Homo sapiens: one gene and its partner. The protein of the gene in region 1 purifies or fractionates together with the protein of each later gene. This does not show direct contact. Each region holds a gene or a part of one and is shown on either strand. Other genes may lie near its edges.

Region 1 (5,600 bases):
CCAGCCTGGGCAACACGGTGAAACCCCGTCTCTACGAAAAATACAAAAATTAGGTGGGAGTCGTGGTGTGCGCCTGTAGCCCTAGCTACTTGGAAGGCTGAGGTGAGAGGATTGCTTGAGTCCAGGAGTTCAAGGCTACGCTGAGCTATGATTGTGCAACTGCACTCCAGCCTGGGCAACAGAGTGAGACCCTGATCCCCCAACTGCCTAAAAAGACAAAAAAAAAAAAAAAGAGTAACCTTTAGCAGTGTCTTTCTGTTGCTTCTTATTTTTGTTATTTAACATCTAGAATAAAAACACAGATTTTGCATAGATCTTTTGGGAAAAATAAAAGTAATTTATGGAATTGAAGCAAAACTAATACCTGCCAAAATCTAGTTATTTTGCTCTTCTTGAGACTTATTTCTAAAGCAGAAAATGGCCGTGCAAGACAGACAAATTTCCTGAGTTGCATACTGGCCAGTGCTGTGGCTATCATACCTGCTGAATAAAAAAGTTCCTAAACCACTCAAGCCATCTAACTGAGGAAGATTTGAAGACTTAAAATGTTGTTATACTTCCAGTGCTCACGTCAAAAACAATCAAAATTATTACATCCTCAGGTATATGTTTAAATGTTCAAAAGAGGGAGATTTTATTTCTCTATTACTATTTTAATGTAGCTTTGTTTTATAATCTATCACCAGGGAGTCATCTGTACCACAATGAATGAATACAGATTGTTTATCAAGATCTAGCCAGCTCTCTGGAATGAAGTGTTTATAAACTTGTTGTCCCATTTTCTCCTTACTGTATCTTCAGTAACACATATATAAAATCAGAATCCTCAATATACTTAATGAACGTAATCTTAGGAACATCACTCTAATACTTTCCTATAGGCTAAAATATCTATTTCAGTAAAGTTTTCACACAACCAAGATTTTCACATGGAGTTTCATGTTGGGGATTCTACTTACAAATTTACTTCTCTGAGGTAAACGAGGGCCATCCCCTCCTTCAGCATCTTCTGTGGCCTTTTTTTCTTTTTTGGACAATTGTGAACGTTGTTGTTCCATTCTTTCTTTCTCCAATTTCTTCTGCTTTTCACGTTCCATTTTTTCAAGACCTTCGCGAATCCAAGCGGGAAGAGTCCTGCGTTTTACTGCGTCTGTTTCACGTGGGAAAAATATACGCAAGTCAGTTAAGTAAAATATTTCTACAAACTTGTGAGTAAATTTAAAAAATATCCCATTAAATATCATGCCTTTCTTCAATGCCATCACTTTTAGTAACAGCAGGGACCACTGCTCTAGTGCTTACAATCTGCCAGGACACAATGAAAGCATGTTAAACCATCATCTAATTTAATCCTTACAAAAGCCCTCAGAGATCACTACTATTACTCCACTTTTTTCCACAGGTGAGGAAACTGAGACTCGAAAAAATTAAGTGATTTGCTAGTAAGTTAAAAAAGGAGTAAAGTTAGAATCTTCCTAAAATGTAAAAAGTAAAGATTTATTAACAAATGCTCCTGTCCATTAAATACTGAACAATTTAGAACTTTCCAGATATAAAGTGGCATAAATATGTATTTGTCACTTGAAATAGGCTGGCTCTATAATGTTATTTAAAAAATTGAAATTTTCTGCCAAAATACTTAAGGGAAGTGAAATAACCAGAGGAAAATTAATCTGACAGCAGTGCATCAGATGAACTAAGAGTGGACAGAGATTGAACAATTAGATTTAAAAGGAGAAGGGCTCATATATCTGTATAATGTACTGAAATGCCTACACTGAAGAAAATACCAACATGCTATGGCTAGCATAAATTTTCACTTCATCACAAAATCTGGAATTTAATGTAAAGGTTTAAATAAAATTATTTAAACCTTTTAATTTCAGACCAGTATCATTTTTGTAATTTTAAGCTTTATGACCATAAAAAATAAAGTGTCAATTCCTAACACATCAGAGATACTCAAACAATTTTAAGAAAACAAGACATCCTTTTTATATGATAAAAAAGTCATGCCAATTGTGGTCCACTAAACTAAGTTAAATAGCTACCAATTTGTGGAGGCTCCTGCTTCACAGGAAGTGCAATAGGTGAACGCTGACGATCCCTGAATGATGATGGCCTTTCTCTTCGATTCTGGGGAGGTGCTGGAGGTCCTGGAGGTCCTGGTTGCCAATAAGGAGGATGAAATCCACCTTGCGGTGGACCAAAAGCAGCCCCATGCTGAAAGAGTATTGCAGTTTATTTTTTCTTCAAATTAATACAATATACTCTCTGGGACACACGTGTGTTATGAACTGGGACAGTAGAAATCCATGTGTGCAGCACATCCAAGAATTCCATGGCTCTAATATCCACCGATACTTCTATGGTCCCAAGAACCTAGGCTTACTTGTCTTAAGATTTTCCGGCTATGTAAATGCAAAGAGGCTTCTAAAAGCCAGCTGATAAGCTACTTTCAAGAAGTATATGAAATTTTTCATTCTGAATCCATTTACAAGCTAATCCTACCAACACTAAGACATCAAATAGATACTAATTTCTCTTTAACTAGACATTTTTGTCAATTTCAACATCCTACTTACAGTGAACAAAAAGTGAACTAAACAACTTAAGCTGTTTCTATAATCTTGCAGATATATTCATTTATAAGCAAAGATAGAAGTTAATGAATCATTAAATATTTTCTGCAATTTTGCTATTTTCAGAGGCTTTTCTAGGCCAGCTGCCAATACAGCTCTTTGTCTTGTTTACATGGGATCTACCATGCAAAAGTAGGGTAAGCAGATGCTCCCTGCCATTATATTTCTTCAAACAACATAAAAACTGTTGTATCTGTATACCAAGTATACAAGTATCTGAATATTTATTAATGAGAGGATTACCATCTCAAGGTGAATACTAGATGTCCATTATCAAATCTACCCTAGAATTCATGAAATAATTCTTTCAAAATTTTAAATTATGATAGCAGTTTATAAGTTAATAATTGCAATCAGTTATTTCAAAATGACACCTAGCACTATAATTTAAGGGTAGACCCTGGCAGAGGGAATGAAGTAAATAAAGCCCAACATACAACACTATTCCCCACAGAGTTCTATGTCCCTAGGAATGAATTGGATGCTACAGAGGAAATTATATACAATTCCATTAACATGTCATGTCAGAATGGAAAAAAAATGACACTAGAAAAACAGTCATAATTCTACATAGCACAAGGAATTACACTTAGGAAAATGATCTATATTTTTTATTCATGTCTTAACCATGAGCTATATTCAATTACTGTGCATTCTCTAGTCTTTAACATTTAAATATACCATTTTGAAATATAAATTAGAAAATAAAACATCATATAGCTATTGCACTTATACATTTTTAATTTTTTCAAAAGTTTTCCGTAATGATCTTTTATACCATTTTCCTAATGAAATAAAAAAATCAGAAAACAAATTCTAATTATTTTAATACTCAAAAATTGATAACTGAGACAGAATGTGCTTATTTATACAAGTCTGAAAAGTGAAACACGTATCTTAGGTATTCTTGATGAGACACTTCCAAAGAATGGATTACGTGCACATCTACAATATTAAAGCAACAAAATATCTTTCACCTGATAGTCAAACTGGTTCACTGGCCCCACTGCAAAATTATCGGGTGGTCCACCAAAGTTGTGATTGTTCTGGTTAAATATATGCCTGTTGTCAGGGGCAAATTCCCCACTGTCCTGACTGTTGCTGTCTTCAGAAGGAGGAACAATGTCCATTGGGCCTGGTGTTGGTGGCATCCATGGCTGATCTGGAGGGGGGTGTGGGGGTTGCTGATGCATTCCCCATTCTATTTAAGATTTAGGCATAAAAACATTCAACAGGCGGTTATAACAAAATCAACACAGAATTTTAAGATCTCAAGAAAGATTTTTCAGTAAACATACAGATTTAAAAAACAACTTATGACTTCTTGGTCAAATTCCTTTTGTTTATCTTAAAAATAAGCAATGAACTAAACTGTCATATATAATTCAAAATGAGCTAACTCCACTCTAATTCATATCCTAACCAAATGCCCAAAGTTATTTTTAACAAATGTAACAAAATCCAAAGCACTATTTTTGTTGAATTTTTATATTTGTTTAGTAACAACACCACAAAAATAATACCTTGAGGTTTTATATAATTTCTTTCTTACACGAACACATTTATCCTCACAACATCCCTGTGAGGTAGGGAGAAATTAGGTATTATTTTTGCCAATTTCGGGAGGGAAAATCGAGGCACACAGAGGTAAATCACTTGCCCAGGGTCACAAAGTAGAGTAAAACTAAGGGGTAGGGATGCCCGCGGGAGTCATTTAAGAACTTAAACTTAGGAACTAAAACATTTTCAAATGTGGGGAAATTTCACTTTCAAGAAAGCTAGAAATGAACCACCTCACAGTATCAAAGACTAGAATATTTATGTTTTTAAAAGTAATCTGAATTCTCGTTTTTTTTGTTTGTTTGTTTTAAATGAGGGACTCATTCTGTCACCCAGGCTGGAGTGCAGTGGCGTGATCACAGCTCATTGCAGTCTCAATCCCCTAGGCTCAAGCAATCCTCCCACCTCAGCCTCCCAAGTAGCTGGGACTACAGGCATGCGCCTCTATGCCTGACTAAGTTTTAAGGTTTTTTTTTTTTTTTTTTTTGTAGAGACAGGGCCTTGCTATGTTGCCCAGGCTGGTCTCGACTGAGGTCTCCATTCTTATAAGGAGAAACAAAAAGTATTAATAGGGAAAGGAGGTTATGACTTCACCATCAGCATACCCAAATGAGAGGCTGATTCCTCCATAGTTTCAAGTGACTATTAAAAAGGAATAACACAAGCCATGGAAGACTGAATTAGCATCAAGAAATCTACATCATACTGTGAAATAAAACAAACAAAAAAGTAAAACACACAAAAACTTATGAAAGATCTTCACTATCTGAAAAAAAAAAAGGGAAGAAAAAGGTAGGCGGATGGTAGGGGCAGAGTATATTTGACAGACTAATTTGTCACACAGTGACACAATTTTTCTTTAATTAGAGGCTAGACATGTTTTACTCTGCCAGTGCTGCTTCTGAAAAGGCCAGAGGTTGCAATAGAGAGACAAAGAATGCTCTCTTCCCTAGATGCCAAGTGAGGTTTCCAGAGTGTTCCCAGCCCCTGTCAGCCTAGGAATGAAGAACCAAGAAAAGAATCAAACTGAGTGCCACAAAGCTAGCAGAATGAGTACAGAATAATTTTAACCACAAAATGTCAAAGTCAAATCAAATTGAAAACTGCCTATTCTTTAAGAAGCATTAATTTCCAGAAGTCATACAACTAAGCAAATTAAAAAATTTAATAATAATCTTCATTCTGTTTTTTAAAAGTCTTAAAATTGTGAAAACATAAACAACAAACCTGGTTGCCACATTCTGTTGAAGTTTGAATCCCCTTGGAAATTCCCATGATTGTTTGGACCAGATTCCATTGTAGACATATCTTGTCCATTTGGCATCATTCCTGGTGGTTGTTCTACCATGCTTTGCTGTCCTGAAGCTTCTCTTTGGGCAATCCAAGCTTGGGCCAATG
Region 2 (4,737 bases), on another chromosome or scaffold:
CCCCCTGCTCCCCTCCATACACATGGCCTCTGCCCCATCCCCATTACCCCATCCAAGGTCAGGCTCACCGGAAGAATGTATGATGCTCGATGCAGACCTTCCACAGTCTCTTGGCTGACCGGTGGTTTGGGAGCTTAAAGCCAATTGTGCTCTCAAATTGCTCATACTGGAAAACCAAAAGGGCAGGTTAGAGGCAGGGCCTGAGCTCACTCTCGCCACTAGCCCATTCTTTGTGTTTTTTATTTTATTTGTTTAATGTTTTTTTGAGACACAGGGTCTCGATCATTTGCCCAGGGTGGAGTACAGTGGCGCAATCATAGCTCACTGTAACCTTGAATTCCTGGGCTCAAGAGATCCTCCTGCCTCAGCCTCCCAAGTAGCCAGGACTACAGTCAGACGACACCACACCAGCTAATTTTTTGTAGAGAATGAGTCTCACTATGTTGCCTAGGCTGGTCTCCAACTCCTGGGCTCAAGCAGTCCTCCCACCTCAGCCTCCCAAAATGCTGGGATTACAGACGTGAGTCATTCTTTCTGAACTCTTCTCAGGCATCTGCGACTTTGGCCTGTTCATTCACTGAATCAATAAGGGTGATTGAGCCCTTACTCTGTGACGGGTCCAGTGCTAAACACTAGAGATACATGGAGACCAAGGCAGAAGATTCTAGTAGGGGAAGGGGACCTCCAATAACAAATAAGCAAACAAGATAATTGCAGACACTGATCAGGGCTACAAGGGGAATGAAGGGAGATGTGTGGTGCAGCAGAACTGGGAAGGCATAGGGGCTCCTGTCATCTAAGGAAGAGCAGGGGATCCCCTCTAGACCTAGATCTAGGTGATCTTGAGCTGACATTTGAAGAATGGGAAGGAACCAGCTATGTGAGAAGCGAGAGGGGGAGATACTTTCAGGTAAAGGAAACATCAAATGCGAAGCACTCAGGCAGGAAAGAGCTCGACTTATTCAAAGATCTCAAGGCCGAAGAGGCTAAAGCACCTTGGGCATGGGGCAGTGTGGCAAGGGATAGGTGGGAGAGGTAGGTGGCCATGGAAGGAGTTTGAAGTTTAGCTCAAGAGCTAAAGAGAGTTCCTGAAAGGTGTAAGCAAGGGTGTGGATGGGAAGGGGGAGTGGGCTTGCCATGATCTGATTTAAGGGACTTTTTAAGATCTCTCCAGCAGCTATGAGGAAAATGACCTGGAGAGCACCAGAGGCGAGGGAGAAGGCCCTCATAGGCACAGGCAAAAGATGGGGGATGCTGGAGGCGGGTGTGATGGAGAGGAAGAGAAGCAAATGGGTTCATGTTTATTCTACAGGTACAACCAAATGGGCTTTTTGATGGGTGAGATGTAGGTAATTGAAGGAAAAGAGGTGTAGACATATACATGTTTGCATTTGTGTGTGTTGTATGTATAGTCGAGTCTGTGTATCTTAAAATGTGTACAAACTTCCATACTTACAACACCTAAATACATGAACTTTACACAGACATGTATTCATTTATCTGTGTGACCTGAATGTATGTAGTTATATTTCTTCTTTTTTTTTTCTCCCTTTTTTTTTTTTTTGAGACAGAGTCTTGCTCTGTTGCCCAGGCTGGAGTGCAGTGCCAGCTAATTTTGTATTTTTAGTAGAGACGGGGTTTCACCATGTTGGCCAGGCTGGTCTCACACTCCTGACCTCATGTGATCCACCTTCCTCGGCCTTCTAAAGTGCTGGAATTACAGGCATGAGCCACTGCACCTGGCCATATGTGGTTATACTTTTATTTAGACTCCTCTCTCTCTCTCTCTCTCTCTCTCTCTGTGTGTGTGTGTGTGTGTGTGTGTGTGTGTGTGTGTGTGTGTGTGTGTGTGTGTGTGTGTTGGCAGTCCAGGCCCAGCTGCCAGGGTCCACTCCATTCTAGTTGATTCCGGTGAGGAGGAGTGTTTCCCAAGGCAGACTCACCTCCCCAGGCCGGATCTTGATATAGAAGTTACTCCTCTTGTAGGAGATCTTGAGGATCTTGGGCCAGGCAAAGCGGTTGATTCTCAGCCGGTCCCGGTAGATGAGCAGGCCATTGGCACAAACGCCTAACATGATGTCGATGCCCTCAGAGTCCTGCATGAGAAGAGACCATGGAATGGGAGGCCCGGGGTCCATGCCTGGGGACAGCCTACCACCCACCCCGAAAACACTGCCCTGTGCGCTGCTTGTAACGAGCTCTCAGGAACAGGGTTAGAGCCTCCATGCTGGAGTCCCACTGACCAATCCCTCCCATAGTCATTCAGTCATTCACTCATCCATTTAGGTATTTTTTTCACCCACTCACTTGTTTGATCATTTGCTCTGTCAATCACTCAATCGTTCATTCATCCAGCAAATATTTAGTGGCACACACTTGGTGCCAGGCTATGTGCCAGGTGCTAGGGATATAGAAATAAACTAAGGCCTACGTCTTTCCCTCACAATGCTCCCAATCTAGCAGTGGCTCAAACAGGTTCATAAATAAAATACATGGAGAAAATAATACAGATCATGAGAAAATAAAAGGTTATGGAACTTCGAGAAATGAGAATGAGAACAGAAAAGGTTTCAAGTTGGAGGTAACACAGGGTCTGGCACACCACGCCCTAGGGAAAGGCCTGATAGTTCTTTGGGGGCACCACCCAGACACTAGGGGAACCCAGGAAGCTGGTGGTACCTTGGCATGGTGCAGGTCTACTCCGTACATGGAAAGCTTCTTGGCATTCTCTAAGAAGTGGATTTCTGCTTCTCCCGGGGTCATCCCCCTGAGGGAAAGAAAGTGATCACAGGTGACCAAGGGAAAGGCCCAGGTTTAGTCCTGCTGTCCAAAGGTGCCCACCATCAGAACCCATGATTCTAGAAAGTCAAATATGCTGAGCCTCACCCTAATCTTTTCCCTCTGCCCTCAGAGCAGGAGGGTGTACCCCAACTCCCACTTCAGCCCACCCAACCCCCAACTTCTGCCAAAGCTCAAGTCCAGTCTTGTTAGTCCAGGGATCATACAAAGGCTGAGCTGGGAGTCAGGATTTTTGCCTCATTCTGCCACTGAGTTGACTGTGAGCTATAAATTCTACTTTTCCATGACTGTAAAACCATTGTTACGGACATTGTTCATTATCATCACCCAGGGGCTCCTAAATTATTACCCACACAGGATATTTCTTGCAGAATTTAGTATCAGAAGCCACTTAATCTCTCCTAAGGAACAGGTGCACATTCTCCTTTCCAAAAAGAAGAGTTATGTAATTAATCAAGTTCCTTCTTTGCTTTGGCTGCCAGGAAACTTGGACTACATTTTATACTTAGTCACAGCAAACATTTATTGAGTACTATGTGCTGGTTACTGTTCTAAGCACTTTACACATATTAACTCACTGAATCCTCATAACAACTCTGTAAGATAGGTATTATTATTATTGTCATTTTACAGATGAAAAAACCGGCACAGAGACATTGAGTAACTTGTCCAAGGTCACACTGCTATGAAGAAGAGTCAGAATTTGAATCTAGACAATGTGACTTCAGAGTTTATGCTCCTAATCACTTCATTACAGGTCTTGTGTATCCTCCAGGCCTCAGTTTCCTGTGACCTGTCTACCTCTGGGCTGCTGTGTGGGATACTTGGACACGAGATGTCAGTGTGCTTTAGGTCCAAAGAGCTTTAGGGACAGCCCTTAGTATTTCTCCAGCCCATATTGATCTGAACATCTTTCTCTGAATTATTATGACTCTTGCAAATCCTAAGATGTCTTGCTATCTAGGACAGGGATGACAAATAGATGGCAGGCAGGCCACTACTCCCTATTCCTATGCCCAGGTGGATATTGCTAACCTGGGCATTGTAGGGAATCAGTGTCCTACTCAACACAACACCACAGCAGTCGCTATTAACCAAGTGGAGTTAGTGTGCGACTCTCAGAGACAGCATTTGCCACCCTTGACCTAGCATTCATCACACCCCAGCAGGCTCTTCCCCACGTACACGATCCCTCCACATCTGACTCTAGCCCTCCTCTCCAGATAACGCCCACAGAACCAAGGCCTCCTAATTCCCTCCATCCTCAATAGTAATGAGACAATATCACCATACTCCTTTCCCTGGGTGCCGCACTTTACAGTTTATAATGCACCTTCACATTATTAATTATATTGAGTCCCCATAACAATCCTGGACTTACAGCCCCAAATACTTCCAGCTTAAAAGGACCCTACAAATCATTTAGTTCCAAGGGCTCCTCTCCAGGGGAACCTGTACAGAAGCAATGGCAAAGGGGAGTATCTGGGTTGTTACAAGGACTGAGAAGGTGTTATGGGCATTTACTGGGTCCCAGGGATGCTGAACATTCTGCACAATGAATTCTCCTGCCCCAAATGCCAATAGTTGAGAGACACTGATAATCTAACTTTGTGCATATACAGGTGAAAAATGGGGCTTAGATAGGTTAAATAACCAGCCTACAATCACACTAGTTAATTATCGTCCAACTGCTGGAACGAGGTACTTTCCCCTGCATGATCAACTGTTCAACCCCTCGATCCACAGACAGCAACACTAACAGCCAACATGCAGTGTGCCTTTAATATGTGCTATTTAGGCTTCCCAACAATCCTACAGGGTGGGTTTAACAGCATCCACCTTGAACAGATGAGGAAACCAAAGCATAGGAAGTGAAATGACCTTCCTGAGATCCTCTAGTTAGAAAGTGGCAGAGCCAGTATAGGAACCCTAGCAGGC

Evidence for each region. The genes of interacting proteins can lie anywhere in the genome.
Region 2: the proteins of PNISR (region 1) and EPB41L1 purify together in Homo sapiens (co-immunoprecipitation; one large-scale study listed by IntAct). This does not show direct contact.

The regions. Positions count from the first base shown.
Region 1 is NC_000006.12:99,407,122-99,412,721, forward strand, and holds part of PNISR (arginine/serine-rich protein PNISR), read right to left. Parts: coding exon 5,430-5,600; intron 5,198-5,429; coding exon of another isoform or gene 5,193-5,197; exon of another isoform or gene 3,844-5,192; coding exon 3,620-3,843; coding exon of another isoform or gene 3,596-3,619; exon of another isoform or gene 2,225-3,595; intron 2,224-2,224; coding exon 2,052-2,223; intron 1,151-2,051; coding exon 960-1,150; intron 1-959.
Region 2 is NC_000020.11:36,185,706-36,190,442, reverse strand, and holds part of EPB41L1 (band 4.1-like protein 1), read right to left. Parts: intron 2,768-4,737; coding exon 2,680-2,767; intron 2,097-2,679; coding exon 1,944-2,096; intron 167-1,943; coding exon 69-166; intron 1-68. UniProt on the Homo sapiens protein: May function to confer stability and plasticity to neuronal membrane via multiple interactions, including the spectrin-actin-based cytoskeleton, integral membrane channels and membrane-associated guanylate kinases.